7 linked regions of the Homo sapiens genome follow. The protein of the gene in region 6 purifies or fractionates together with the protein of the main gene of each other region. This does not show direct contact. Each region holds a gene or a part of one and is shown on either strand. Other genes may lie near its edges.

Region 1 (4,250 bases), on a different chromosome or scaffold from region 6:
GGCTGAGAAAACCACTCAGCTGCAAACATATGCCACCTTTCACGAAAAAGGAAAGATGACTCAGAGTGGAACCAAGAAACCAAATGGTACAGTCAAGAGCCCTGGAGAACTATTCCCAGGCTTTGAGACCTACTACAGGAGCACTTGCCTCAACAGACTTCAAATTCCTATTGACAGGTGACTCCTATTTTTCTCACATTTCTGCCTTTTTTTTAAACAGGAATATCTAGGTATTTTATGCCTGTCCTACCACCATATGTTGGCTGTGTTGAGGGCAGGTAATTTGACTCTGGTTTCACAGATCTACAGATAAAGAGGAAGCATACTTGAAGAATTATAGTTAAAGATTGTATGGATACCTAAGGGGCCTCACCCACACCTGGATCAAATTTGGATGGCATCTAGATTTTGAGGTGATGACCGCCTATACAGTAAAAAAAATTATTTTTCATATTTTAATAAAAGTGATGTTTGACATCAATACAATTTAACTTGTTTTATAGCATCCAAACCTCTAAATAAAATATAAAATAATTTAAAACATTTTCTGTCTGTTAAAAGATTGAGCTACTAATGCAGAAGGGCAAGCATCATAGATTTCTAATATTAATATTATTTATTAATAAATCTCACTAATATAAAACTTGATAAACTTCTCTAAACCAAATTAATCAATTATCAACTGCCAAATTTTAATCTGTTTATAATATTTATTTGACAGCATCATAGCTATTATCAAGAGAACACATAAGCAATGTCAAAGCTGTCCTAAATATCTTGATTTGCAGATTATTTTTTCTGTTTGTAACAAAGATTCCAATTAAAGGAGGCATTTTAAATGAGATGTGAACTGGAAAATGAAATGTCTGACTCTCCTAAAATGATTATAATTTTTTTAACTTCATGCACTCCCAAAGAAAAGCAAATAATATCATTTCAATGTTCTATAATGCCTATCCTTCAGAATGACAGCACATCTTAATTTTCTATTCACTATCATATTGTGACATTTTATGTATGAAAAATAGTTAAAGCAGTATTTTTTAAAATGTCATACGGCTATAGAGAGCAATTTATTTCATGCCCATGTCCCTCCGGGCTATGAGCCTATTTAGTAAAGCTTATCAGTGAAGGACAATGACTGACATGTCTTCTGCATATGCACTCATGGGCCAATAAAAACAAAGAACACAAATATACCATTCAGAAATACACAGCACTGTTTAAAAATAGCAATGCCCATTTCTTCTCACAGAGAAGAGGGTCCTAGTCTACAGAGACAGCACAGAGCAGTGAAGGGGTATTATCTTGTACTGAGAGTCAGAGTATGTGGGCTCTCAGCTTAGCTTAAGCTACCTGGTAAGTGACTTATCCACCTTAGAATTCAGTTAACTAACTGTAAAATTCAGTGTCTGTATCCAACTTGATCAGTCAATGCATTCCTAAACTTCAGACATGCAGGCACCCCTCAGGCGAGTTCTTACTACACTCATGCAAAACCTGTACAGTTTTTTTGAATCCACCAAATAATCACTTAAATAAGTTTATTTTTCCTTAAAATAAACTTTAAACAGGAAACTTTTACACCACTACTTTATAAATGAAAAATCTGATTTACATAGCATTAATGATTGGTAATAGATTTAATTTTAAAATTAAATACAATAATACAACAAAACAATTATCAAATTCTAGCTATCAAGTTGTTGGCTGCCTAACGTCTATTCTCTTTGGAAAAACAGAGAAGCAACTCTCTAGGAGAGAGATTCTAGCATCAGACTGAGAATTTCTCCATTACTTGTCAGGAAAGCATTGAAAGGAAATAAGTTTTTCATTATATGATTCACTGTCATTTCAGGCAACATCTACATGCCACATAAAATCAACTCTAGTATCAACCAAAATCATCTTTCATACCAGCAGCAAATTTCTTGTACCCTGGAAATGCTGCATCAAATAGTACACCCGTTATTTCTGATTCTAAATTTTATCATGAATCCCCATATGACCCACCTAACCTACTTTCTTAAAACCATTAATACTGTCATGAGAGACACTAAAATAATTTTGAGGGCAATGATGCACTATGGAAAAAGTTACATTAGGTTTCTAAGCTTAGTTTCATCAGGCTAGATCTTGACACTGGCAAGTTAATTAACCTCTCTAAGCCTCAGATTGCTCATTCAGATTAAAGTGCTAGTGTCACAGTTAAATGACATAATGCATGTAATAAGCTTAGCATTGAACCCGAACATGGTAGGTACTCAATAAATGTTATGGATTAAAAATAATTTAATTTTCTCAAATAAGTTTTCAAAATTCTACTAAAATTCACTCCAAAGAACACTGGCTAAAAAGAAAATATAGTTTATCATTTTTCTTTTATAATAAAGCTATATGATATATAACTTTCACTTCAAAATAAAGCTATAAAACCCATAAACCATCTACTGGCAAAAGTAGCAAAACCACTTTGTCCTTAATGATAAAAGAAGAACCATTGGCTGTCAAAATGAAAAACAACAACTCTTAGTTGCTATCATGTAAAGCATTTTCAGGTTTTTTCCACCCCAAGAACGGCTCAAAAGGGTAGAAAAGACAGAGTGAGAATATCTTAATCAAAAAGTTTCAGCCAAGTAGGGCACATAGTGAAAGGAGCCACTTTTAGGCCAGCACTAATAACACTCTTACCTACTAGATGTAGTAAAGGCTGGGCAAAATAAAAAGAAGCCCAATGTTAATTCAACAACAGTAGTTCTGGTCACCTAATAAATGGTAGTAGTAATATTCTCCAGGACTCATACTCGTCACTTCAGATGCACTATTTCTAATCCATACAAGTTTGCAAGTTAGACATTGCTAACCCAAATTAAAACACGAAGAGGCTGAAGTTCAGAGAGGTTATTTGCCTGCTCAAGGTCACCCTGCTGGTAAATGCCTGAGTTGCACTGAAACCACATCTGATGCCCCAACCAGCTCTCCAGTCACCATTTCCTGCTGCTTTTCTTTTAGGACATAAAGATGTGAACAAAACTCTTCCTCAGTACTTTGAAAAGTCACCAGGTGATATGTGTCCCCTTTTCTTTCCCTGCCCTCTTCTGGTTTCTCTCCAATCCTTTGCTTTTTGATTCACACCATATTTAGTCAGTATTCATTTCCCCAACTCCAATTCACTTATTCCTTCAGCCACAGTAATGTGGTATTGTACCCCAGCCCTTTTGGAAACTGTCCTTCCTAAGAAAAGAAAGAATAAAAAGAAATCAAGGCAAGGCTTCCAATCTACTTGGAACTTAAACTAAAGGCTCCCAGATAACAAGTAATTCTCTTACACAGCAACCAATTATTTACCTGGACACCAGTACTCTCATTAGAGTTGGCATGTTACATATTAGAGGGATGACTAAGGTGGGCACAACGTGTGAAATCGATTATAGATTATGTGCAAATCATACATATTCAAAAGAATGCTTCACTGAATTAGAGCTTCAAAAGGTATTTGGAAGCTTTTATCTTTTATTCAGGGAAGGAATTTACACACAAATAAAAATTACTGAACTTAAGAGTATTTTTGTTCCATATTCTAAATGGTACAGGATCAAGCAAAAATGATAGTCTCTTCATTTAACTCTAAGTTGTACTTCAGTGAAGATGTCCATTTAATAGACAATGTCTAGTTCATGTTTTAAGTTCTAACGCTGCACTTGAAAATTAGTACACCTACCACACATTGCCCACACTTGTGGTCTAAATTGCTGAGGTCTATGAACCACTCTGTTGTATATGTTTCCTCAATCATCCAAAATGCAAGCTACACCCTTCTAAGCACTGCACATCAGCTAACACTATTGATTCTCAAGATAACCTTTTGTAAGCACTATTATCCTGATTATTACATATGAATAGATTGAGTCACAGAAAGGTTAAATAACTTGCCCATGACCACACAGCTAGCAAAATAAGATAGCAGAAAATCAAATCCAAGTGCTCTGACGCCTCAGCCTGTATCTATTATACCTCACTGCGCACAATACCACCATATATATGCACATTAATAGGCCAAGAAAAAGTACTACATAGGTACTACCAGGCACCAGACGCTGGAGATGAAGGAATAAAAAAAGCCTGGTTCTGTGCTGAAGATGTTTCTCTCTTTTTTTTTTTTTTTTTGAGACAGAGTCTCGCTCTGTTGCCCAGGCTGGAGTGCAGGGGGGTGACTGGGCTCACTGCAACCTCTGTCTCCCAGGTTCAAG
Region 2 (4,250 bases), about 30 Mb from region 6:
GAAATCCTTTGGGTGTCTCACTGCCTCTACTGCTGTCCTGATCTGGGATCCATCAGGTCACCTGGTGTACTGTATGTACACCATACAGTAGCCACCTGACCACCCCTTCCTCACCCCCTCAGCCTTCTCATGACACTCAGAGTAAAATATGCCCTTATTGTGGCCTGTGGGGCCTGGGTGACCTGGGCCCTGGCTCTCCTCTCCTCTACCTGCTGACATTCTCCCCTTTGTCTCCTCACCTCTGGCCTCAGTAGCATTGCAAACCTGCTGTCTCCTCAGGGCCTTTGTACTTGCTCCTCTCTCTGTTCCGAGTGCTCTTCCTCCACATTTCCACGTGGCCTACTCCCTCACTTCTTTAATATTCTGCTCAAACACCTCCGCCTTGCCAGGCCACTCTGACTAACATGGGATAGCCTCTCCACATCACCCTGTCCCGTTAACTCTCAATCAGCTCGGGTTACCATAACAAAAATGCAGCCAGAAACAACCGAAATTTATTTCTTACAGTTCTGGAGGCTGGGAAATCCAAGATCAAACTGCCCATGAGGTAGGTTTTATTCTGAGCCTCTTCCCTGGGCTTGTAGATGACGAGAACTGTCCCAGTGTGTGTTCACATGATGTCTTCTTTGTGCTCTGAGGGAGAGAAGGAGTCACAGAGAGAGAGAGAGAGCTCTTGTGTCTCTCATGAGGGCACTAATCCCATTTAAGGCTCTACCGTCATAACCTAATTACCATCTCCAAATAAATCTCCAAATACAATCACACTGGGAAGTAGGGTTTCAGCATATGAAATTAGGGGTATGCAGTTCAATCCATAGCACCCTTTTATTTTTTTCCACAGTATTTATCATCTCCTGACATACTATACAGTTAGGTGTTACTTAACAGTGTTTATTCAACAGTGGACCACATATGTGACAGTGGTCCTGTAAGTTTATAATGGAGTTGACAAAATTCCTACGGCCTTGTGACATCATAGTTGTCATAATGTCGTAGTGCAATGCGTTACTTACATGTTTGTGGTGGTGATGGCATAAACATACTCTACTCCCAGTCACATAAAAGTATAGCACATATAATTATGTACAGTACATAATATTTGATAATTAAATGACTGCATTACTGATTTATGTACTACTATGGTTTTTATTGTTATTTTAGAATGTACCACTTTTTTTTTAAGTTAGCTCTAGAAGCAAGGTCCTTCAAGAGGTATTCCTCTTCAAGGCATTATCATCACAGGAGTTGACAGCTCCATGCGTGCTACTGCCCCTGAAAGACCTTCCAGTGCGATAAGATGTAGAAGTGGAAGACAGTGATATTGATGGTCCTGTGGAGTCCTAAGCTAATGTGTATATGTGTCTTAGTTTTTAACAAAAAGTTTAAAAAGTTAAACAACTTTAAAAAGAAATTTTAAATAGAAAAAACTTATAAGAATATAAAGAAAGAAAATATTTTGGTACAACTATACAAAGTGTGTTTTAAGCTAATGGTTATTACAAAAGAGTCAAAATTTTTTTAATTAAAAAGTTTATAAAGTAAAATTACAGTAAACTAACGTTAATTTATTATTGAAAGAAAAATACTTTTATAAATGTATTAATAATGGCTAAGTGTACCATGTTTATAAAGTTTACAGTACTATACAGTAACGTCCCAGGCCTTCACATTCACTTATTACTCACTTACTAACTCATCCACTGCAACTTCCAGTCCTGCGAGTTTCATTCATGATAAATGCCCTATACAAAGTGCCCTGTATTTATGTATAGGGTTATAAAATGTATAACCCTATAGAAAGGTATCATTTTTCATCTTTTATAGTGTATTTTTCTGTGTTTAGATACACAAATACTTCAGTACAGTAACATATGCTACACAGGTTTGTAACCTAGAAACAGTAGGCTGTGCCAACTACATTTGTGACAGTGTGCTCTATGATGTTTGTACAAGAATTAAATTGCCTGTGTTTCCCAGCATGTATCCCTGTCATTAAGGGACACATGACTAGACTTATTGATTTATTGTCTGTCCCGTCCCACTAGGATGCACAATTCTAAGAGTGTGGTGACTTTGTTTATCCACTGGCCCCTTGTTCCTAGTATGGCATCTGGCTAATGGTAGATAACTAATCAGTGTGACTATATTCACTTACTGCCATTATGTTTGTAATAATAAGCTAACAGCAGTTATCTTTGTTCTAACTCTGCATCATTTAAGTCAACTTGTATGTTCAAGAAGAAGAAGAATGGCATGAAAATTGTTTTTTAGATTTTCACGGTAACATTTTATTTTCTATTATAGGTAATGAATATTCGAACAGTACTGAACAAACTGGAAAAACCACAAGGCCTTTATCCTAACTATCTGAATCCCAGTAGTGGACAGTGGGGTCAACGTAAGTCAGAAGATTTGCATTATTATAGCTCTTTTTGGTACTGTACTCGTGGAGAGAGAGGAAGCACAAAAGCAGCACAGATTTTGTTGAGAAATGTTTAGAAAAGGAGAAAAGGGCATGGCTCCTTTAATAAACAGGCTTCTGTCATCAGATTGTGTTATTAGGACACTGGATTGTGTATTTTTCATATATAACTCCAAGTGTGATGACATATAAGCACATTTACAGCTATTAATCAGAAAGGGAAGATCTGGCCAGAGTAGTGTGGGGATGTTAATCTGTAACAAGCTGGTCATGTGGATAGAAAGGAAATTCATTCCTTTGTACTAATGACTATGAGGGTTTTATAGAGAGTAGGTAGACCATTCTGCTTCCTAACATTCTGTTTCTGCATGGCTATATAATGAGAGAGGAGCCTGAATTTTTAAGAGTTGGGAAATTGGAAGAGCAAACAGCCTGTTTTTCTCTTCTTAATTTTAAGCTGCCAGATATAAAGGTTTCTTGCCAGTAGAATTACCTTTAGGATGGGAGAAAGTATTGCACAAGAACTTTTGATCCTAGAAGCCTGCACTTAAGACTCTTCAGACGATTTTGAGCAGGGGCATAAAGATTCAGAGTAGTTGAAAGAAATGTTCTCAAGCTGATTTGGAAAAACAGTAGTAGATTAAATAGCTGAAAACAAGTGAAGAATATTGAGATACCCAACTGTAGCAAGAGTACACTGCCTTAAGATTTTACTCTAATTTGGGTTTTTTCTTTATATTTTAATATCATGTTCTTAGATACCTCATTATTACTTTAGAAGTACTTTTCTTAAAGAATAGTTTAATAGGAAAGTATATGCCAAAATCCATATGCTAAAATATGTCTGTAGCTCTGGAAGGCCTAGCTGTTGAAACCTTAGGACTATAATCAAGGTTACCACTTACCTAAGTGTGGTCAACAGATCACTGGAAGTCCTTGAGACCTCTGAGGAGGCCCACAAGGTCAAAAATATTTTTATTATAATACTAGTATAATGATATATAATAACAAGACATATAATACATGTCTTAGTCATATTTACTAAGCCAGTACACAGTATCTTGCACTTAGTGGATGTTTACTTACTTAAATTTTGTGAATACATATGTGCTCTGTATCTCATCTCTCTTTCTGCCTCTGCTTTTAATAGTGGTACTTTGAAAGACTTTCTGCCTTTTCTAATGTGTTGATATTTACACCTACAGTGTTAGGTGATACTGCTGAAGCCTCACTGAGAACAAAGGCGAACAAACACCAAATAGTACTAATATTCATATTTTTTCTTTTTTTTTTCTTTTTTGTGGGACAGGGTCCCACTGTGTCACCCAGGCTGGAGTACAGTGTCATAATCTCAGCTCATTGCAACCTCTGCCTCCTGGGCTCAAGCTGGGCTCAAGCTATCTTCCCACCTCGGCCCCCCGCCCCGAGTAGCTGGGACTACAGGTGCACGATGCCATGCTCAGCCAATTTTTAATTTTTTTTTTTTTTGGTAGAGAGAAGGTCTCATATTTCCCAGGCTGGCCTCAAACTTTTAGGCTTGAGCGATCCCTTTGCCTTGGCCTCCCAAAGTGTTGGGATTACAGGCATGAGCCACCACACCAGCCCCCATTGTATTCTTAATAGCATTTTAAAAAAGGATACTGGTTTCACTTATGAATGTGCTTACTGAAACAGTAAAAAAAAAAAATTAGTGATTCTAATAAATACCAACCTGTGAGTACACACCTTTGTCATGTTCTGTGAGGTGAAATGGAAAATACTCATAAATCACTCCTGCTGAATTATGAAAAATGATAGTTGCATCAAGGAAAAGCTCTTGGGTGTTTTG
Region 3 (4,250 bases), on a different chromosome or scaffold from region 6:
CATAGAGTATAGCCTACTACACACCTAGGCTATGTAGTATAGCCTATTGCTCCTAGGCTACAAACCTGTACAGCATGTGGCTATGCTGAAATACTGGAGACATTTATAACACAAGTATAGTATTTGTGTATATAAGTACATATAAACATAGGAAAGGTACAGTAAAAAACACAGTGTTCCATAGCTGAGGGTGGTGGTGTGTGCTTCTAGTCCCAGCTGCTTGGGAGGCTGAGTCAGGAGAATCACTTGAGCCCAGGAGCTTGGGACTGCAGTGAGCTGTGATCCCTCCACTGCACTCCAGCCTGGGCAACAGAGCAAGACCCTGTCTCTTAAATAAATAAAAATGAAAGTTAAACAACAACAACAAACAAGTTTTAGGAGTTTTATAGACTCCACCCACTCACCCAGATTAACCCCATAAATAAATAATGGACTGTTAGCTAGACACTTCATGTTCTACAACTCAAATGAGTTAGTTAACTCCTCTGAGCCTCTGTTCATTCATGTCCGCAGTAGATATCAGAGCTGTGTCCTTTCTTCATATGTGTGTTAGGAGATAACACGAAAGCTTTCATGGAAACACTTGGAAATTAAGGTGCTATAGACAAATCCTTTAATTAAAATAGAAAAAAATACATTCTTTGGTTGATTTGAAATTTTGTCTGAAGTAGATGTTACGCTACTTGGTTTTAGGAATCTTTTTTTTTTTTTTTTTTTTTGCCTGAGACGGAGTTCACTCTTGTTGTCTATGCTGGAGTGCAGTGGCACTAACTCAGCTCACTGCAACCTCCGCCTCCCAGATTCAAGCAATTCTCTCGCCTCAGCTTCCTGAGTAGCTGGGGTTATAGGTACGTGTCACCACACCCACCTAATTTTTGAATTTTTAGTAGAGACAGGGTTTCACCATGTTGGCCAGGCTGGTCTCGAACTCCTGACCTCAGATGATCCACCCGCCTCGGCCTCCCAAAGTGCTGGGATTACAGGCATGAGCCACCACGCCTGGCCAGAATCTTTTTATTATATGCAGATTATTTCATAGATAGGTATTTTATTATAACAAGATTTTAATTGCGTGTGTATAAATGATAGCACTATATATAAAATATATATATAAAATATAATATATATATATATATATACTTTTTTTTTTTTTTGAGACAGAGCCTTGCACTGCACCTCCCAGTCTGGAGTGCAGTGGTGCAATCTCGGCTCCCTGCAACCTCTACCTCCTGGGTTCAAGCGATTCTCCTTCCTCAGCTTCCCGAATAGCTGGGATTACAGGTGCACACCACCACATCCAGCTGATATTTTGTATTTTTAGTAGAGACAGGGTTTCACTGTGTTGGCCAGACTGGTCTTGAACTCTTGACCTCGTGATCCGCCCACCTTGGCCTCCCAAAGTGCTAGGATTACAGGCATGAGCCATCGTGCCGGGCTAATAGCACTATATTTTAAGATGCTTTGGTTTGCTATATTAGTGGTTATACCTTAAATTGTTGAAACATATCTTGTAAGTATAGATTAGGACTCTTGAATAGAAAATATTTAGGGGAACTATCTCATATTTTGCATGAATGAATGTTTGTGGTTGCTATGGGGATGATGAAGTGTACAATTAAAGATAATTGGATGGTTTTTAAGAAAACTCTCAGAAGCGTTTTGTGTAAACAGTGGTAATCTTGTTAAATCCCATTAAGATAAATCCAGAACATCAACGTGAGTATTAAACAACAGATTCTACATATTGGGATGTTTGTGGACACCACAGAGTAGGGAAAGGAGCAAGAAAGTCTCTAACTTCTTAGTGGATTATGTGGTTTGTTGGTTTTTAACTTGACTGAAAGCACTGTTGGCCGGGCGCAGTGGCTCACGCCAGTAATCCCAGCACTTTGGGAGGCCGAGGCGGGCGGATCACGAGGTCAGGAGATCGAGACCATCCTGGCTAACACGGTGAAACCCCGTCTCTATTAAAAACACAAAAAATTAGCCGGGCGTGGTGGCGGGCGCCTGTGGTCCCAGCTACTCAGGAGACTGAGGCAGGAGAATAGAGTGAACCCGGGAGTGGGAGCGTGCAGTGAGCCGAGATAGCGCCACTGCAGTCCAGCCTGGGCGAAAGAGCGAGACTCCGTCTCAAAAAAAAAAAAAAAAAAAAAGCAAGCACTGTTATTTGGGAAATGCCTGGTTTTTAGAGACAAATGAACAGAGATTTCAGCAGTGTAATTTCAGTCTTGACATGAACTATGACCAGAACTTTGAGCCGATGTGGTTTTTTGTGTGTGTGTGTGTGTGTGTGTTTTTTTTACAGAGTTTCTGTCTTGTCGCCCAGGCTGGAGTGCAGTGGCACGATCTCGGCTCACTGCAACCTCCGCCTACTGGGTTCAAGTGATTCTCCTGCCTCAGCCTCCTGAGTAGCTGGGATTACAGGCGCACACCACCATGCCTGGCTAATTTTTTGTATTTTTAGTATTTTTAGTACAGATGGGCCTTCACCATGTTGGCCAGGCTGGTCTCGAACTCCTGACCTCAGGTGATCCACCTGCCTCGGCCTTCCAAAGTGCTGAAATTACAGACATGAGCCACCATGCCTGGCCCTGTTGTGTTTCTTATGAATTTTTGACATTTTAAATTTTTAAAAATTCAGGTTCTTATTTCTAGTGCTAACTAAACTATAATACTTAAACTTTCCAGGATCTCTGTTTCCATTTGTAGCATGCAAGTATTATATTCTAACTGAAGATTATTGAGAGCATTTTCTTTAACTTCCACAATGTGGTTGGTTCTTACTTGATTTCTTGGTAGAACGTTAATAAGTCAACTCTATGATGGGGTTTTATTACTTTGTGTGTGTGTGTGTGTGTGTGTGTGTGTGTGTGTAGCCAAATGTTGTTTATTTGAAACCCATGTGATAAAAGTTTTAAAATATTAATATCCTCGCTATTTTAGGATGCACATTCACAAGGTGAGGTGGTATCATGCTTGGAGAAAGGCCTGGTGAAAGAAGCAGAAGAAAGAGAACCCAAGATTCAAGTTTCTGAACTCTGCAAGAAAGCCATTCTCCGGGTGGCTGAGCTGTCATCGGATGACTTTCACTTAGACCGGCATTTATATTTTGCTTGCCGAGATGATCGGGAGCGTTTTTGTGAAAATGTGAGTCAGCTCAGAAACTGTTCTTTTCTTCCTTTTATTTTTACACATATATAATTTTGTTTTAATTAATTTAATTGTGTTGTTTTTTGAGAGATTGAGTCTTGCTATGTTGCCCAGGCTGGTCACGAACTTCTGACCTGAAGCAGTGCTCCAGCTCAGCCTCCCCAATTTTTGAGACAGGATCTTGCTGTGGTGCCCAGGCTGGAGTGCAGTGGTGTGATCATGGCTCACTGCAGCCTCCAACTTCTGGGTTCAAGCGATTCTTCTGCCTCAGCCTCCCAAGTAGCTAAAACCATAGGCAAGCACCATCTTGCCTGGCCAATTTTTTTAAAAATTTTTTGTAGAGATGGGGCATTGCTGTATTGCCCGGACTGGTCTTGAACCCCTGGCCTGAGGTGATCTCCTCCCTCTGTCTCTGAAAGTACTAGGATTATAGGCACGAGCCACTGTGACTTAAATATTTTTTAATACTCTATTCTAACGTAAAATAAGCCATCAAGAAACCTCACATGTAGAAAAGCCACAGAAATGGAAGAAGAAATTGGTCCCAGTATAGCAGAAAGTGGTAACTGGATGCTCAACCTTGATGACTGAACATTTGGTTAACAGCTGGCTTCTAATGATCTCCACTTAGTATTTTTTCTGCTTTATCTCACTTCTCAATTTCAGTTCTTGGAAGTCTGTTTTATCTATAGGAATTTTATTTTACCCAGGATCTTATTTACATCTATTCAATGGCTAAAACTTTGACGCATTATATATTTATGTGTTTTTGGCTAAGGTGAAGAAAACAGCAGGTGGCTAATCTTTAAAACCAAATCCTTGATTACCACCTGCTGACTCTACAGAACAGCCTTCTAAGTCTTTAAATAGAATGGTCTCTCCATCCTTACAACAAAGTACTGAAAGTAACTTGTGTACACTTCCACTCTGCCTGCTGGTTTGCATTAACAGCTTTAACCATCAGAGCCACTGATGTAAGAGTTTCGTTAACTCTAGCATACACTTGTAAGAAAGAAGACTCAGAGGCTGGGTGCGGCGGCTCACGCCTGTAATCCCAGCACTTTGGGAGGCCGAGGCAGGCAGATCACTTGAGGTCAGGA
Region 4 (4,250 bases), on a different chromosome or scaffold from region 6:
GCATCAATTTACATCTATGCGCAAATTATCTTTTGGAAGGTAATCATATTTTTAAGTCGAGATTTTGCCTTCTATTAGTGTAAAAATTATTGGAGAGAATACATATTCTTTAGAGCAGAAAAAAAATCCTGTTTACTAAAACAATGTAATGTATTTCTCTTTCTCTTTAGAAACCTGGGGTAAGCCCAGTTGGGGACCTAATATTAAAGAATTCAAACACCGCTTTGACCCTGTGGAAACCAAGGGAGAAGGTCCAAGAAGGCTCAAGAATCTTTACTTTTTATACTTGATTGAGCTTCGAGCTTTGTCAAAGGTGGCTCCATATTTTGAGCGCTCAATTGTCGATCTTTACACTGGAAATGCAGAAGAAGATGCTGACACAAAAACTCTTCTACTGAATATCTTTCAAGATACAAAGTAAGAATTGACTATCCGTGATTTGAAATTCTCCTCTCTGTATTCAAATGAGGTAGCACTTAAAGTACACAAAAACTGACTCCTAAAAGTTAACCGAGGGGAGATGTAGAACAGAAAAGGAAAGTGATCAATAGAACAACAGAATTTAAAAATATTTCTGAAAATGTTGATGAAAAAGCATTAATAAGGCTTTCTTTTGCAGAAATTTTCACACTTGAGAATAGTGCTTTAAAATATCACTAAATTTTATGTAGTATCAAAATTTAGTGCTACTTTAATGGTCTTTCTACCAATTTTGTATTCTTCTAGTCACTTTATTTACTTACTTATTTTTGAGACAGAGGCTTGCTCTGTTGCCCAGGCTGGAGTGCAATGGCACAATCTTGGCTCACTGCAGCCTCTGCCTCCCAGGTTCAAGCAATTCTTGTGCCTCAGCCTTCTAAGTAACTGAGATTACAGGTGTGTGCCATCACACCCAGCTAATTTTTGTATTTTTAGTAGAGATAGGGTTTCACCATGTTGGACAGGCTGGTCTCAAGCTCCTGGCCTCAAGTGATGCACCCTCCTCTGCCTCCCAAAGTGCTGGGATTAGAGGCATGGGCCATCGCGCCTGGCCTCTAGTCACTATATTTAAATTTAGATGATAATATACATGTGTTTGCATTGGGATGGATATGTAAGGAAACATTAGCCTTATCTTCTAGAATATAACCTTTTAAACAAAACGCTTGGTCAAGAAAACTTGAGTTAACTGGTTTTTAAAATAGCCTGGAAGAGAAAGATTAAAAAGTGTTTAAAGTAAATTATGTATTAAATTTTTAAAGAATATTAAGGGAATATTGCCTATTTTTTACATAGATTGTTTTCAGTTAATTTTTTAGATTACCTGTGTCATTTATTTAAAACATTACAGTCTTACTAAATTTAACAGCCATCTGTGTCTTGCTTTAGTCTTTTATGAAATAGTTTATGTGTGAACTGTTTGTCACTTTTCTACATTACCAAAACTTACATCGGAGTAAATAATGAATTTTAAATATTCATAAGGATAGAAAATTTTATCAGGTTTCTGATACAGAGTACGTGGATTTTTCATGTGTAACTTAATCCAATACTATCATTTTATCAGGTCCTTTCCCATGCACTTTGATGAGAAATCCATGTTTGCAGGTGACAAAAAAGGGGCCAAGTCACTAAAGGTAAAAAGTTCTCGATTGGGACACGGGGTTGGGAGCAGTTTGCTGGTTATGCTTTAATGCTGTGCATCCAAACTGTTTTCTTTCCCAGTTTTCCAGCTTCTTGTCAGAGTTGGTCTGATTGGATTTTAATACAAATGGTACAAAAAGCCTTTCCATATTTCTCAGTTCCATTGACCAACTGCTTAGTGAATCATTGGTCATTAGTATGTCCTATAACACCTTTATAAATGTCTTTTTAAAAGATACTAGTTGAGGGAAAGTTTTCTTAGTTTAAAAGCAGTGTATATTGTCGTTTTGATGCAGCTTTCAGAATACCATGAGCTTTTAGCCACTTTGAGGACAATAAATATTTTTCTAAAGTTTATTTTATGGAATGTTACGGTTTTTGAAACATATATTATGTTTTTGTCCCTTTGGACTAACTTAAAAGGTTAAAACTACCTGTTAACATGTGACATCAGAAGGAGAATATGTTTTGGGAACATTACCAAACTTCATGTTAGGTGTTCTTTATTTTCATTTGCTTAAAGTACATTAAGAAACAAATTGTACCCTTAAAATGTTCATAAAAGTATTTGAAATTGGCATTTTTTTTTTTTTTACTTTTAAATTTATTTTTTGAGATGGGGTCTCGCTATGTTGCCCAGGCTGGTCTCAAACTCCTGGCCCTGAGCTGTCTTCCCACCTCAGCCTCCCAAGTACCTAGGATTACAGGCACAAGCCACCATACCTGGCCACAAATAATCTTTGAGTACAACTTCATAGTCTTTTATATGTACTTCTGAAATCCGGGTAGTTTCAAAAACTGAAACATTTTCTTATGTTTAGTGCAAGGTAATTTTTTAGCAAAACCTGACCTAAACTGGTGTAAGAATATAGCAGATATTCGTAGTTTTGTGGGGTTGTTTTCAAATTCTGCTTGGTATGAATTTTTTATATTTTGCTACAGAAACATTAACGGATTTGACTGCAGGGTGTTTCCTCACACTCTGGTGAGATGTTTCATAATATACAGTACATGTACTGTATTTCTAAAATTTAAAAACTTCTGAATTCTAAAACACATTTGACCCCAAGATGTTTTAGATGTGGATGTACTATAGGAACCAATAAATCAATACTGAGTGATTCTCCTTTGGCGAGACTTTCTTGGTATTTCTGAAATAAGTAATTTAGTCACAACTATATTTTAGTGTTGGAAGGTTGTTTTATTTTACAGTTGTTTTAGAGGTATATTGCCATTTTGGTATTTTGTATGTTAATTCATTTTTATAATGCTTCCTGTTTTCTAAGTATCAACACATATGTTCTACTTTTAATCTTCAGAATGATCTTGTGTAATAGGGCAACTATAATTATGTATGTTTTTGTAGATGAGGAAAGTGAGACTAAGCAAAGCCTAAGTGTCTCACAGCAAGCTTTTAACTACACAATGCTGGGATTTTGTTTGCTGTTTGTCAAGAATGTATGAAGGAGAACCTATGTCCCTTTTCCATCTGCTGCAAAGAACTTACATTACATGAGAATATGACCAGCACAGGAGTTTTTGTGTTCTATTTATATTGTCTTTCTTTGCCAAGGTATTGATTCCTTTCAACCCTCTGGCAGCTGGTCAGGGCTTGTGGTAGCCAGAGTTTTCAGGCTACTTGCCTCCCGCTTCATGCAATAAAATATTTCCCTCAATGCAATAAAATGATTTTTATTTTCTGCAGTTGCCATGTGAAACAAATGAGGAAATTTTCTCTTAACCAATCTTATCCGCAGATAAAGTGAGACCAACCTTAAAGGCATATTGCACACAAATGCTTATAGGCAGAAGAATTTCCCCAGTGTAGGAAACTTCTCTTTTTTTTTTTTTTTTTTTTTTGAGACAGAGTTTCACTCTAGTTGCCCAGGCTGGAGTGCAGTGGTGCGATCTTGGCTCACTGCAACCTCCACCTCCCGGGTTCAAGCTATTCTTCTTCCTCAGCCTCCCAAGTAGCTGGGATTACAGGCATGCACCACCACACCTGGCAGATTTTGTATTTTTAGTAGACATGAGGTTTCACTATGTTGTTTAGGCTGGTCTCAAACTTATGACCTCAAGTGATCACACCTTGGTCTCCCAAAGTGCTGGGATTACAGGCGTGAGCCACCCTGCCTGACCAGTGTGGGAAACTATTACAGCAAAATAGAGGGATCCAGTAAGCATCTCCATAACAACTGCATTAGCAAATGTAGAGGACTGTGGGACCATATGTGTCACACAGGCCTGTTATCATTCATATTGATTGAGCAACCATGACAAACATAGTGTGGTACTAAGGAGTGATACAAAAATTGATCATTGTTCTAGGACTAGCTTTCTGATATAGGCTTACACAAAGCAAAGGATCAAAAATAAGTGAAACATAAACTAGACATATTTATTGTTGGTTGTATGTAGATAACAAATGGAAGCAGCAATTAAGTTCCTTAAAAGTAAAGACCATGTATTATTTACTTTTGTATCTCCCATAGTGCATATTTTGGTGCTTTGCATAAAGTAGCTCCTCAGTGGAAAGTGAATTAATATGCAGAATGAATTTTATTAATTTCCATTAATGTCAGTATTTTATGTACCATGTTATAGTATACAAGTATCAAGTATTTTTC
Region 5 (4,960 bases), about 120 Mb from region 6:
AGAGGCAGGTCGTCTCCCCCTCTTAGCTCCCTGCAAGGTGCCAGGGTCTTCTCCCAAATCCTTGGCCCCAGTTTCCTCCTCTTTAGAAGAGATAAATACTTGTGTGTGAGAGAGAATTGTGCAGAGTTCAGAACTGCGATGGTCTGAAAAGTTCCCAGGGTTTGGTGAACCTACCAACCTAGCAGTAAAGAGGGAGGCCCAGGTCTGTAAATCAGGGGGAGCTGGGCCTTGGAGGGAAAAGGGAGAGAGAGTTTGGGCGGTGTGCATACATACCTTCTTCGTCCAGGACTAAGGAGCTGAAGCTCTTTTGGAGGGGGTAGGGGGTATGACTTAACTGCTCATTTCTGGCAGCTCTGTTGGTAATGTGTGCTTGTTCCCCCACTTTCCCTTTGCTTTTGAGGCTGCTTAGAGTCTCTGGGCTGGTCAATGTTCAGATCCATTCCCTAAACCCCCCTACTCCCACCCACCACCTCCCACCAAGACGCATCTCCAGCTCCTGAGTCGACCTGCAGTACAGCGTTATTAGTCTTTTTATTTGCTTATTGCATCTTGGGAGCGCGTGGGTGGGTGAAGGGAGCGAGGATAGGAAGTCTATGGAGATTTACACCAGTTTTTTTTTTTTTTTAAACAAAAACACAGCCAGATAATTATTATTCTTCCCTTACGTCCCCCCAGCCCCCACCTGGGGCAGTCGCTCTCCCGGCTGCGTCCCTTTTCGTCCATGTCCTAGCAGAGACTACAGAGCAGTACAGAGGCTCTCGCTGAAACCAGTCCCAGGCTCCACAGAGTCAGATCACGGCTTCACACCAGTCGTTCTGGTCACTTAGGCGTTCGCGTGAGCGCTCAACCCCTTACCGCCACCTCATCGTCACTCTACACCATTCTGAGCGCAAAAATGTTTTGATTGAGACAAATTTAGACCAAGCAATGACCTTGTAAACAGAGAGAGGGGCTCAGACATGCTGAGAAATCCTTATCTCTAGAGAAACGTCTTTAAATGCTAAGTAAAAGCCCTAGCAAGTAAAAGCCCTGAGGCACTAGGGTGTCGGTTAGGGGTCACAGGCGGAGAGGTGGGGCGCCTGGGGGTTTCGGTAGGGAGCCACCCACAGATAACTCAGACAGCCAGATTCTGGGGGTCGTTCAGGTTGAAAGACTGGTCGAAATTACGCGGGCATGAGTCAGCGCATCCCTACGCGCCCTCCGCCCCTTGAGGGTGGGTCGCTTATAGGGAGGGGAGTAGAGTAGGGCAGGAGAAACTGGGCCAGGCTGCACTTAGCTCAAGGGGCCTCGAGGACTCTCTGCGTCTCTGGAGACAAGGGCACTACACGCACTTCAGAATGAAGAGTTGTAAGTCGCTGACCTGGGGCGGACTGGAGGGTGGGGTGGGGTGGGTGTTGAGGGGCACGCCCGGGCTGGCATCAGCCCTCCAGGCCACCCTGCCACTCACCCAGCACACGGCAAAATGCAGAGGACTACCTTTCCCTGGTCCGCCCCCTGGCCGCCCCTTGGGGAATGCAAACTTCGTGTTCTGCTGCGGAGCCAGACGCCTGTATTGGGAAGTGGGGAGAATCAAGGCGGGGAAATCGGACTTTTGGGTCGCTGGGGGCAACGAAGCCTGGAGAGGCCTTCTTTCCATTCCCAGAATATGTTTGCTGCTTTTTCCTCTCCCCACTGGCCTAAATGGATCGCTCCGCCTGTTTCCTCCCCAGCACCTAGGGCGCAATGGAATATTCCATTGCCCCTCCTGTCCTGGGTCTGTGTTGCGGGGAACGCTCGCGCGGTTGCCAGAGAAAGCCCCGGACGTGACGGATTTGCGCGACCCCAAGCAGCCCGCCCTTCCCCCTCCCATCCGTCATTCCCCTGCGCTCTCTTTCCTCACCCTTCCCCCCGCCACCGTGGGTTCCAGACTTGGGATAAGTAAACAGCGGGTGGAGCGAGGCCTACGGACCCAGGCCAGGTGGGAGTCTGCACTCTTCAAGGGGCCTGGGCTGCTGCTCACGGGTATTAAAGAACTCCGCGTTGTTCATGGCTGAGGCGATGCATTAGGAAGATCCTGGACCTAGAGAACAAGTCCCCCGAACGCTGAGTTGGAGGCGGGACTTCGGGTGCGCGTTGGTGCGTCAACGTGGTGGGGGGGTGTGTTTGTAGGGAGAGGGCTGGAGTAAGTTAAAAGTAGGCTATTTTGTGACACGGACCTGGTGTGGGAGCGAGAGGAGGTGGCTTGATTGCCGGGCGTCTGTTCCGAGGGAGGAGGGTGTTGCCATCTCCCTCACATGCCCTTATCACCCCTTTCTCAGGCGGGAGCATGCTGGGGCTCTGCGGGCAGCGGCTCCCCGCGGCGTGGGTCCTGCTTCTGTTGCCTTTCCTGCCGCTGCTGCTGCTTGCAGCCCCCGCGCCCCACCGCGCGTCCTACAAGCCGGTCATCGTGGTGCATGGGCTCTTCGACAGCTCGTACAGCTTCCGCCACCTGCTGGAATACATCAATGAGGTCTGGCAGGGGACACCTGGGTGCAGGGCGTTAGAGGCGTCTACTGTGGCAGGGGAGGGAGAGCGGGGAACTGAAAGCCACCCCTCTGGGCCTGCCCAGTTCCTCAGGGAGCTGGTGCTGGCGTGGGGGAGAGTTGGGGGACGGGATCCCTGGTTCTAGCAGGGTACAATAGACCTGTGGACGCGGGCCAGGGGGTGGCGTGTGGGAGCTTCTTAGCCTATCCCCGGTGGCTGCATTGCCCCCTTCCCACAGACACACCCCGGGACTGTGGTGACAGTGCTCGATCTCTTCGATGGGAGAGAGAGCTTGCGACCCCTGTGGGAACAGGTGCAAGGGTTCCGAGAGGCTGTGGTCCCCATCATGGCAAAGGCCCCTCAAGGGGTGCATCTCATCTGCTACTCGCAGGGTAGGCGACTCCCCTGCCCCTAACTCCTAAGCCCTATCTGAGGCTTGATCCTTATCTGAGGGACACTTCCTAGCGTCCCTTTTTCTGAACCACATTGCTCCAGGCACAACCCTGGTACCTGAGCCCTTCCTTTCTGACTTCCCTCAGCACCTGGGTCTCATCTCTGTCTTGAATGGGAGGGAGGCTCCCTACACTGCTGCCCTTTTGCTTCCTGTTACCCATGGTTCTTGGACATAAGGGCTAATGGGGCAGGTAAAAACATCCTAGAACTAGAGGCAGGAGGCCCAGCATCTAATTCGGGCTCAGTCACTTATATGATGTGTGACCTTTTGGCACAGGGTGTGCCTGCCTTCTGTAAGCCTCAGTCTCCTTTGTGTACAGTGTGTGTCTGTGTGTGTCTCTGTGTGTGTGTGTGTGTGTGTGTGTGTGTGTGTGGTGGGGGTGGGGGGTGCTGCTGGCTTTGCTGTCCTTAAGTGCCTGCCCAATGTGGTGTTCTGCTTACAGGGGGCCTTGTGTGCCGGGCTCTGCTTTCTGTCATGGATGATCACAACGTGGATTCTTTCATCTCCCTCTCCTCTCCACAGATGGGACAGTATGGAGGTGAGTGGGCACTAGACTCCATAGAATGCCCTGAGTTTTGGGGGAACAGAGGTTTATGGTCACTTAGCATTGCCATTCGCTTGCCAGACACGGACTACTTGAAGTGGCTGTTCCCCACCTCCATGCGGTCTAACCTCTATCGGATCTGCTATAGCCCCTGGGGCCAGGAATTCTCCATCTGCAACTACTGGCATGGTGAGTGGGGATGCTGAACTGGGGCTTCCATGGATCAGGTCAGTTGCTTCCACCTCTGCTACAACCAATAGCAGTGATGACAATAAAGATAACTTACATTTATTGAGTTATTTGAACAGGCTCTGTTCAGAATTTTTTTTTTTTTTGAGACGGAGTCTTGTTCTGTTGCCCAGGCTGGAGTGCAGTGCACCATCTTGGCTCACTGCAACCTCCGCCTCCCAGGTTCAAGTGATCCTCCTGCCTCAGTCCCCCTAGTAGCTGGGATTACAGGCAGGCGCCATCATGCCCGGCTAAGTTTTGTATTTTAAGTAGAGATGGAGTTTCGCCATGTTGGCCAGGCTGGTCTCGAACTCCTGACCTCAGGTGATCCACTCGCCTCGGCCTCCCAAAGTGCTGGGATTACAGGTGTGAACCATTGCACCTGGCCCAGAATGTTTTAAGTGTGTCACCTTATTGCCTTAGAAGGTTTAGTCTGATGTGGGAGTCAGCAAACCTTGTCTATAAAGGGCCAGAGAGTAAATATTTTTGACTTTGTAGGACATATAGTCTGTTTCACAACTCCTCAATTCTGCTGTTGTAGTGTGAAAGCAGCCATGTACCATATGTGAATGAATGTGCCTGTGTTCCAGTAAAACTTCATTTACAAAAACAAGTAGCAGGCTGGATTTGGTCCTTTGGTCACAGTTTGCCAACCTCTAGACCAGACCATGGGGCCAGAATACTTGGGTTTGAATCTTGACCCTATTGGGTGCCTTTGGGCAAGTTACTTAACCATTCTGTTACTCAGTTTTCCTTATCTGTAAAATATTATAGCATGTACTTCACCAGGTGGTTGTAAGGATTAAATAAATAAATGAATGCAATGTACTTTGAATAGTACCTGGCTCATATAGTAGATACTAGATAGAAGTACTTGCTATTGCCAGGTGTGGTGGCTCACACCTGTAATCCCAATATCTTGGCAGGGGGAGGTGGGCGCATCACCTGAGGTCGGGTTCGAGACCAGCCTGGCCAACATGGTGAAACCCCATCTCTACTAAAAATACAAAAAAAATTTAGCTGAATGTGGGCACACGCTTGTAATCCCAGCTACTCAGGATGCTGAGTCAGGAGAATTGCTTGAACCCGGGAGGCAGATGTTGCAGTGAGCGGAGATCCTGCCACTGCACTTCAGCCTGGGTGACGGAGTGAGATTTCATCTAAAAAAAAAAAAGTACTTGTTACTATGTTTACGGTTGTTATCACTACTATTATTATTTTGAGATGGAGTC
Region 6 (4,250 bases):
GCACAACAAGGGCAAGAACCCCACCAGCCTGGTACTCGGTGGGAATCTTTTGTATCCCTAGTCTCTCAACCTTCTGGAATTCAGTTCCTGTTTACTATTAATCTTTCAAGATAATATTTGAGACTCCAAATGTCCTATAAATAATGAAATTTAAAAATCAGGGTCTGTAGAGGCCTCAGGAGACCACCATATAAAGCTTTGTAACTGGAACCAAACCCTTGTTTATACCTAAAACATACTTGTCACTACTCATCCCATGTTGTTTGTCTTTCTCTTTGGATAAAATGACAAAATGTCACATAAAATGTGATCGTGAAGACCAGGAGCGAACACCCAGCCTGCTCCTGTACAGTGACTGACTTAACCAACAACCTGCCCTCGTAGCATGTGTCACTGGGTCTGAGACACTGGAAGCCCACACCTCAATCCCATAGTGGATATACTTAGTAGGCAGAGAAGAAAGTGTTTTATAATGATCACCTGTCAACCTTACTTGAAGGCACAACCTTCTTTAGAGAGTGACTTACTCAGATAGTCAGGACCCCCAGGGTGTGATCTGCCCAGGTCCTGCATCAGCACCCCTGTATACTTGTTAAGAACCCCCACCCAATCATAGTCTCGTGTGTAGCAGCCTCCCCAGATGCTTCTGGCGTAGCTATAGTTGAAATCTACTGTGCTAGACAAATGTCATAGCCTGGAGAAGAAATGGCAGCAACAATGAAGCATTATATTTGCTTGGTAGGAAATCAACCCCTGCTATCAGAAGTGACATTATTCCCCAAAGGAAACATTAACTAGAGGGTCCTTGTGTTTCTGAAAAGGCCAAAGGAGAACTGCTACTTCTACACCGGCAACGCATTCATTGTACCTTTTTGCTTATGCTATGATTTCTGCTTCGTTTTTAGGCGTATTGTTGTTATTCCTGTCTTGTTTCATTTGCCATAACAAAAGAGTTTGCTTATAGTCCAAATTATAGAACTAGGAGTGTTGGTTTTTGACTTCACCATAAGCCCCCTGAGTCCAGGTGGCCTCTCCCCTGCCCCCGACCCTTGCCTCAATAACAAATACCTCCTGGTTAACATTTAGTGCTTCAGGTATTGGGAAGATTTGGGGCTGGATGACTCACTTGCTGATCACAGTGAATATCTTTATAACAGGAAACATGATTTGAACTCCCTAAAGTATTTTTTAAATCGTGTAGTATTTTTCAGATTTTTGAATTTTCTAATCTTGGAGAGGTGACTCATGACACCACACCTTGATACACACACAATGATTTTTATAACTCTTTCATCATATCACCTTGCACAGTCTTTACAACAATGCTTTGAACTAGGTAAGGGTGATTTTTACCATTTTTCAAAAGAGAACCCTGGCTTGCCCAATTCCCCCAAATGATAAATGACAGCCAGGCCTGGAGCCCCACTCCCGGGCTTTTCTCACTCGCCTTAGTGTCAGTTCAGAGAGCTGGCCTACAAATCAGCTCTCTGATTTTTACAAATTAGGCTGTTTTCCTTCTGCAATCTAGACAAACAAAATAAAACAAAACAAAAATCCAAAGATTCCTCTTTAACTCTTCCAAAGAATAAGATGATTAATAGGCATGACCTGACAGCTCTTTTGAGTTCTACATAAATACTATGTCGGTAAGTTTCATATTTCAAAACTCCTAAATTCATTTAATTGGTTCAGTTTGGTCCTCCTATTAAAAAACCATTCTACTCACCCCTTGATTAGTATTTGTTAGAACCTAACTGCTTGTGCCTGCATTCATTCGTCCACAATACTTAGGCAGGGCCTCTGAATTCAAGGCCCTGGGCTTGGCATGAAGCATGGATGAAAGTGACAGAGAAGGAATGGTGAGCAGGGCAGGACACCAGTTGGAAGGACTGGGAAGGCCCTGGATGGGGCTACATCTGGGCTGGTCCTTGAGGGAAACAGGATTTGGACTTATGCAAGTGAAGGTGGGAGGTAGAGGGGGTAAACTCTCAGCATCTTGCTGCATTTCAAATATGAATGTCTGATTTTAAATAAATTTTTATATCCATAAAGGGAGCCTGGTGAATGGGCCCTTGAGAGAGCAAAGCTGAACGTGAATGAAAACTTCCTGCTCGTGGGGATTCTTGAAGAGTTGGAAGATGTGCTGCTGTTACTGGAAAGATTTTTACCTCATTACTTCAAGGGCGTGCTCAGTATCTACAAAGACCCAGGTAACTTCATTTGTAAGCAAGCTCTTCTCCATGAGAGGTCTGTGTCCAGGGCTACTCACCTTGAAAAGGCCTCAGGAAATAAAGGAGTGAAATGATCTCTTCTGATGACAAAGGGCAGTTAGTTCCCTGGGCTTGCAAAGGAAAGTTAGAACCAGGAGCTGCAGATGCCAAAATCTTGAGCTTCATGTTCAGACATAAAAGCACCATGTTCCAAAGGCTTAATGGCTCCATTTCTCCCTATGGAAACTGAAATTGGCAACATTCTCCATCAGCCTTGTCTTGAGCATGTTGCTGGAAACTGAAACTGGCAACATTTTCCATCAGCCTTGTCTTGAGCATGTTGTTGGGGTGGGTACAAATGAATCCGTGTGTGTGCACCTGGACTCCATTGATGGAAACATGCGTGAGTATGAAAGAGCCATCCTTGTGATGAATTCTCTCTGGCCCAACTTCCATTTGATAAAAGCACTCTAGTGTATCAAATCCTGACAGTGGAATAGATAGAGCAGCAAATTGAAAATACAATTATGATTTTATCCTAACAAACCGAGTGGTCCCCAAATAGCAGCAAGAAATAGAATGTGGCAAAGCAATTACAAGGGCTGCCTGTGGTATCATCGTAAGTATAATTACTTTCAGAAATCCATCATTTATTTTTTCATTGTCATTTTATCCAAAGAGAAAGACAAACAACGTTGTTTGTTTTTTCCTATTCTCCTTAATCTACTGCTGTGACAACAAGCCTTGAATACACATTCAGTGATCTGTTTATTGTTCTGTTTTGTTGTCCTGAGATGGAAGAAGGCATTCTGCCCTGTAGAAATAAGCAGCAGATAGGCCCGGTGCGGTGGCTCATGCCTATAATCCCAGCATTTTGGGAGGCCGAGGCAGGTGGATCACCTGACGTCAGGAGTTCGAGACCAGCCTGGCCAACACGGAGAAACCCTGTCTCTACTAAAAATACAACAATTAGCCAGGTGTGTTGGTGGGAGCCTGTAATTCCAGCTACTCGGGAGGCTGAGGCAGGAGAATCGCTTGAACCTGGGAGGTGGAGGTTGCAGTGAGCCAAGATCGCGCCACTGCACTCCAGCCTAGGCGACAAGAGCGAAACTTCATCTCAAAAAAAAGAAAGAAAGAAAGAAGGAAGCAGCAGATGAAAGCTCCCCAAATGCAGTCTGCTGCCTCACATTCCACAGGGTTCCCGAACCCCACCTGCATCACTGGTAGGTCCCAAGGCCCAGGGAAACTGGTCTTTGCCCAGAGAGCCCTGGATCCCGTTGCACAAGGTCAAGGTGGCCCTACCACCATCAGGGACTTGCTGAAGGAAGGTGGATAGTTGGTGGAGGCTGCCTTAGCCTCCCAGCTCTCATTAGAGTTCAAATCCCATTTACCTGAGTGGGGTTGTGAAACTAGGATTTCCTTTGTCTTTTCAACAACAAGCCATTTAAAGAGTTTATAGAATTTTAATGTAAAGAGTTTGATGTGACTGATTTTTATTTCTAGAAGACAACATAAACTCCGTTCTTTGTGCAAGGAGAGGTCTTATCCTAAATTAGACTCCTTTGAAGAAGAAAGGTTTATGTTAATCATTTTCTCCTTTTGGCTTTATCTTGTTCTATGGTGTGTGTGTGTGTGTGTGTGTGTGTGTGTGTGTGTGTGTGTGTGTGTGGTGTGGTGTGGTGTGTGGTGTGTGTGTGTCTAATACACAGTCTGAGATAAAGGGCAAACTAAATCCTGGTGACACATAAGATGAACACTCTCCATAAAAGATATTATGGCTTCCAACTTTGTTACTGTCTGCTCAGTCATTTGCTCTGAGAGAGATCAGCTGCTATGGATGAAGAGAGGTTCACATAGTGAGGAACTGAGACCTCAGACCAAGAGCCACGTGTGTGAGCCATCTTGGGAGCAGCTACTATGACCCCAGTCAAGCCTTCAGATAACTGCAGCCCCAACCAACATGTTAATGGCTGTCTCATGAGAGATCCCAAGCCAGGACCACCCAACTAAGCTACCCCTGAATTTCTGACCCTCAGAGCC
Region 7 (4,250 bases), on a different chromosome or scaffold from region 6:
ATGGTATAAACACATATAAGTGATGATATGAGAGGAGGAACACTCTTTACTTTTGCTAGAGCCTATTTGTTCCCTAACACTTTATGTCTATAACATGCTTATGACTGTGCCAGGTCAGAGATGCATGGCTGTTGCCACTCTGCTGTCATGCAGGAATTGCTAATCAATAACAGCACTCTCCCTCTAACCCAGAGCCAGCCTCAGACACATTGTTTCGCAACCACAGGGAGTCTGTTAAAATTGACACTCAAAAGGAAAGCTATTTGCCTTCTCTGTTTTAGGTTCCTTTTGTTTTCCTTTCTTTTCTTTTTCATTACAGTTATTTATTTTATTATTTCCTCATCACGAGCCTATGGTAGGTATAATACAGCAAACAGTATCCGCTGGCTTCCTTCATTGGTGTCACAATCATTCCCCAAGTGACCCCTATGGAGTCCAGTGACCAAGGAATCCATGGGTAGAATTCAGGGATCCATGAACTTGGATGGGGGAAAAATACATCTTTATTTAAACCTTTAACTCAAATTGAGTATTTCCTTTGATGATGAGTATAAGCAACAAACCACAATACTATTAGTAGTATTTGTGACTGTCACTAATAGAAATTATAGATACTTTTCTATCGCATTTCAGTTGTAGATAGCTCAAAGTGCCATTTACATTCATTGCAACTTCAAAATATCTGCTGTTAGACATTTACCTACCTCTAGATCCATTTAAGGGTTTAATTTAAAAAGCATATTATATCATAGATTTTTAAATAGCTTGGTAGCAGTATTTAATTGGTTTCCTGTGTAATCCTATATATTTTATTTTACTCATTTAAAAACATGATGCTGAGAAGGAATGAAGGCTTTACCAGACTGCCAAAGGGATGTATGGCACAAAGGTTTAAGGAATTATGCTTGAATTTCATTGTCTACATAGATGACATTTATTGAGCTGACTGTGCGCTTGGCATTATTTTAAGCATTCTCATAGTCCCACTGTGGAGCAGGCAGTACCCCATCCTACAGATTACAACACTGGGGCACAGAAAAGTGAAATAATTAGTCCAAGGTTTCAGGTAAATAGTAGAGCTATGAATGAACTCAGGCTACCTGTCCACAAAGCATGAACTTTTTTTTTTTTTTATACTTTAAGTTCTAGGGTACATGTGCACAACGTGCAGGTTTGTTACATATGTATACATGTGCCATGTTGGTCTGCTGCACCCATTAACTCGTCATTTACATTAGGTATATCTCCTAATGCTATCCCTCCCCCCTCCCCCTACCCCACAAGAGGCCCCGGTGTGTGATGTTCCCCTTCCTGTATCCAAGTGTTCTCATTGTTCAATTCCCACCTATAAGTGAGAACATGTGGTGTTTGGTTTTCTGTCCTTCCAATAGTTTGCTAAGAATGACGGTTTCCAGCTTCATCCATGTCCCTACAAAGGACATGAACTCATCCTTTTTTATGGCTGCATAGTATTCCATGGTGTATATGTGCCACGTTTTCTTAATCCAGTCTATCATTGACGGACATTTGGGTTGGTTCCAAGTCTTTGCTATTGTGAATAGAAAGCATGAACTCTTAACCAACAGTCATTAGCATGAAATCAATCTCAGTGTCTTTCATTCAGGAAACAGCAGTACCCATCCAGAGTAGAATGAGACCAGGGGCTGCTAGCTATTATCTGGCCTCATGGCAGGTAGCAGTAAGGGTGTACCATGCTACGGTGCCAATATGCCCCTAAGCAAAGTGGGAACACAGTGTTACTATCAGGAGTTTCTTTGTGCCATACTTCTCTGCTTTTGAAATTTACATACAACTGCTGGGGCTTTATCTCCTATGTGCAAGTGATATACAAGCCAGGGCTTTATCTTTTATGTATAGCCTTGTAAAAACCCTTTGGAATTCACCCCTTGGGCTCTGGCAATACTTGCACTAAGTAACTAAGAATCTGTGCTTAGGCCTGTAAACCTAGGGAAAATTTGCTCCACTGGCAGAGAAGCTAGAAGACTGTGGGGAGCTGGGGCAAACTGTATTTGGAATCAGGAGACCTGGCTGAGGCGACAGGTTCAGCACTAATTATTCATTAATTATATTATTCAATATTTATATTATTCTGTTGAACTAACTAGTTAACCTCTCTAACCTCAGTATTTACAGTTATAATGTAAAAGGGAAGATATCTATGAAGACTGGATGAAGGCATAAAAGTAAAAGAGCTTTCTTTCCAAATATCAGTAAATGTACGTTTTGGTTTAATATAAAGAAATTTGGCAGGGCTCAGTAGCTCATACCCATAATCCCAGTGCTTTGGGAAGTTGATGCGGTAGGATCACTTATGGCTAGAAGTTTGAGATCAGCCTGGGCAACACAGCAAGACCCCCATCTCTACAAAAAAATTTTTTTGTTTTTTTTTTTTTGAGACAGAGTCTCGCTCTGTTGCCAGGCTGGAGTGCAATGGCTCACTGCAACCTCCGCCTCCCGGGTTCAAGTGATTCTCCTGCCTCAGCCTCCTGAGTAGCTGGGATTACAGGCATGTGCCACCGTGCCTGGCTAATTTTGTATTTTTAGTAGAGATGGGGTTTCACCATGTTGGTCAGGCTGGTCTTGAACTCCCGACCTCAGGTATCCACCCGCCTCAGCCTCCCAAAGTGCTGGGATTATAGTAATGAGCCACCGTGCCCGGCCATGTTTTTTTAATTAGCCAGGTGTAGTGGTGCATGCCTATAGTCCTCACTGCTTAGGAGGCTGAGGTGGGAGGATTGCTTGAGCCCAGGTGTTCTGGGTTACAATGAGCTATGATTGTGCTGCTGCACTCCAGCCTGGGTGACAGAGCAAGAACCTGCCTTGAAGAAAAAAGAAAAAAAGAAAGAAAATATTTTTTAAAAGATAGATTAAAAAAATAAATAAAGAAGTTTTTACACTTTTGACACACTGACTGACCAGCACACAAGAGTTACATAATAAATGATTTAAAGGATGGTGGTTTAAAAAAAAAAAAAAGGGAAAAAGGCTGCTCTTTCAGAAGTAGAAACAGACCACATAGCTTCTTGTGGGAATTGTCATAAAAGGTGCGAGGCAGCAAGCAGAACATTCACATGGGTACTCTGGGGGTTCCTGCCCACGCTTAGGTCTCTGATGCACTCAAGCCTCATGATTCATCCATGGCTGTGTACCTTGACACCAGGAACTGGCCTGGGAATATTTGTATACTGTTATTTTCCCCTTTATTGCTCAACTAGGGAGGGGTGGAAAAGGAGGGTGTGGAATCCCAGTTACAGTTCAGAAGAAGAAAGACAACTTTGATGGCATTTATCCCTCTGGGACATCCTTATACTAAAAATTGAAGTGGGCAACCTGGGGAGAGAAATAACTTGATTGCCAAAGTACCATCTCTAAATATTGAATAATCAAACAGTAGGCATCAGATTAAAGCAAAAATCAAACATAAAGCCTCTGTTCCTTCAACTTCCTCTGAAGAGCCTTTCCTTATGGGGAGGTGGGAACATGCTTTTTTTCTTTTTTTTTTGAGGGAGTCTTTCTCTGTTGTCCAGGCTGGAGTCCAGTGGCTCAATCTTGGCTCACTGCAACCTCTACCTCTGGGGTTCAAGCAATTCTCCTGACTCAGCCTCCCAAGTAGCTGGGATTACAGGGATGCACCACCACACCTGGCTAATTTTTGTATTTTTATTAGAGACGGGGTTTCACCATGTTGGCCAGGCTGGTCTTGAACCCCTGACCTCTAGTGATCTGCCCGCCTCAGCCTCCCAAAGTGCTGGGATTACAGACGTGAGCCACTGTGTCCGGCCAAACATGCTCCTTTTTAAAACAGACTCAAAGGGTCACCAAATTCTGACAGAAGGCACTCGAACATATGATAAAATACAGGGTACCCAGTGATATTTTAATTTGAGATAAACAATGAATGATATTTTAGTATAATTATGTCCCAAATTCCACGCTTAATGCTAAAAGTATGGTATAAGTATTTCATGCTTATACTAAAAAAAAAAAAAAAAATCCATGTGAAATTCAAAGTTAACTGGGTAGCCTACATTTTTCTTTGCTAAATCCAGCCACCCACCACCTACCCCAACATTCTCACGTCAGCCCATTTGGGGCTCCACATATCCAATAAAGTTACCATTTTATAAAGTCACTGCCCATTAAAGTGCATCACAGTCACGTAAAGAAAAGGTGCATCAAATTGTAAAGTAGGCCGAGGGTGGTGGCTCATGTGTATAATCCTACCACTT

What was found.
Region 1: the proteins of UST (region 6) and GOLIM4 purify together in Homo sapiens (affinity purification with mass spectrometry; 2 studies listed by BioGRID and IntAct, with this or other methods). This does not show direct contact.
Region 2: the proteins of UST (region 6) and MAN1A1 purify together in Homo sapiens (affinity purification with mass spectrometry; 2 studies listed by BioGRID and IntAct, with this or other methods). This does not show direct contact.
Region 3: the proteins of UST (region 6) and GLG1 purify together in Homo sapiens (affinity purification with mass spectrometry; 2 studies listed by BioGRID and IntAct, with this or other methods). This does not show direct contact.
Region 4: the proteins of UST (region 6) and ERO1B purify together in Homo sapiens (affinity purification with mass spectrometry; one large-scale study listed by BioGRID and IntAct). This does not show direct contact.
Region 5: the proteins of UST (region 6) and PPT2 purify together in Homo sapiens (affinity purification with mass spectrometry; 2 studies listed by BioGRID and IntAct, with this or other methods). This does not show direct contact.
Region 7: the proteins of UST (region 6) and PON2 purify together in Homo sapiens (affinity purification with mass spectrometry; 2 studies listed by BioGRID and IntAct, with this or other methods). This does not show direct contact.

The regions. Positions count from the first base shown.
Region 1 is NC_000003.12:168,085,620-168,089,869, forward strand, and holds part of GOLIM4 (Golgi integral membrane protein 4), read right to left. Parts: intron 1-4,250. UniProt on the Homo sapiens protein: Plays a role in endosome to Golgi protein trafficking; mediates protein transport along the late endosome-bypass pathway from the early endosome to the Golgi.
Region 2 is NC_000006.12:119,199,402-119,203,651, reverse strand, and holds part of MAN1A1 (mannosyl-oligosaccharide 1,2-alpha-mannosidase IA), read left to right. Parts: intron 1-2,304; coding exon 2,305-2,398; intron 2,399-4,250. UniProt on the Homo sapiens protein: Involved in the maturation of Asn-linked oligosaccharides. Progressively trim alpha-1,2-linked mannose residues from Man(9)GlcNAc(2) to produce Man(5)GlcNAc(2).
Region 3 is NC_000016.10:74,495,338-74,499,587, reverse strand, and holds part of GLG1 (Golgi apparatus protein 1 isoform 3 precursor), read left to right. Parts: intron 1-2,943; coding exon 2,944-3,147; intron 3,148-4,250. UniProt on the Homo sapiens protein: Binds fibroblast growth factor and E-selectin (cell-adhesion lectin on endothelial cells mediating the binding of neutrophils).
Region 4 is NC_000001.11:236,222,436-236,226,685, reverse strand, and holds part of ERO1B (ERO1-like protein beta precursor), read left to right. Parts: coding exon 1-39; intron 40-170; coding exon 171-417; intron 418-1,546; coding exon 1,547-1,616; intron 1,617-4,250.
Region 5 is NC_000006.12:32,152,290-32,157,249, forward strand, and holds the start of PPT2 (lysosomal thioesterase PPT2 isoform a precursor), read left to right. Parts: upstream 1-1,851; 5' UTR 1,852-2,115; intron 2,116-2,297; coding exon of another isoform or gene 2,298-2,305; coding exon 2,306-2,488; intron 2,489-2,740; coding exon 2,741-2,894; intron 2,895-3,398; coding exon 3,399-3,494; intron 3,495-3,581; coding exon 3,582-3,689; intron 3,690-4,960. UniProt on the Homo sapiens protein: Catalyzes the cleavage of thioester bonds from S-palmitoyl-CoA or S-palmitoyl-N-acetylcysteamine (unbranched structures) but does not have activity against palmitoylcysteine or palmitoylated proteins, branched structures or bulky head groups.
Region 6 is NC_000006.12:149,019,272-149,023,521, forward strand, and holds part of UST (uronyl 2-sulfotransferase), read left to right. Parts: intron 1-2,052; coding exon 2,053-2,210; intron 2,211-4,250. UniProt on the Homo sapiens protein: Sulfotransferase that catalyzes the transfer of sulfate to the position 2 of uronyl residues in glycosaminoglycan chains. Has mainly activity toward iduronyl residues in dermatan sulfate, and weaker activity toward glucuronyl residues of chondroitin sulfate.
Region 7 is NC_000007.14:95,427,917-95,432,166, forward strand, and holds part of PON2 (serum paraoxonase/arylesterase 2), read right to left. Parts: intron 1-4,250. UniProt on the Homo sapiens protein: Capable of hydrolyzing lactones and a number of aromatic carboxylic acid esters. Has antioxidant activity. Is not associated with high density lipoprotein.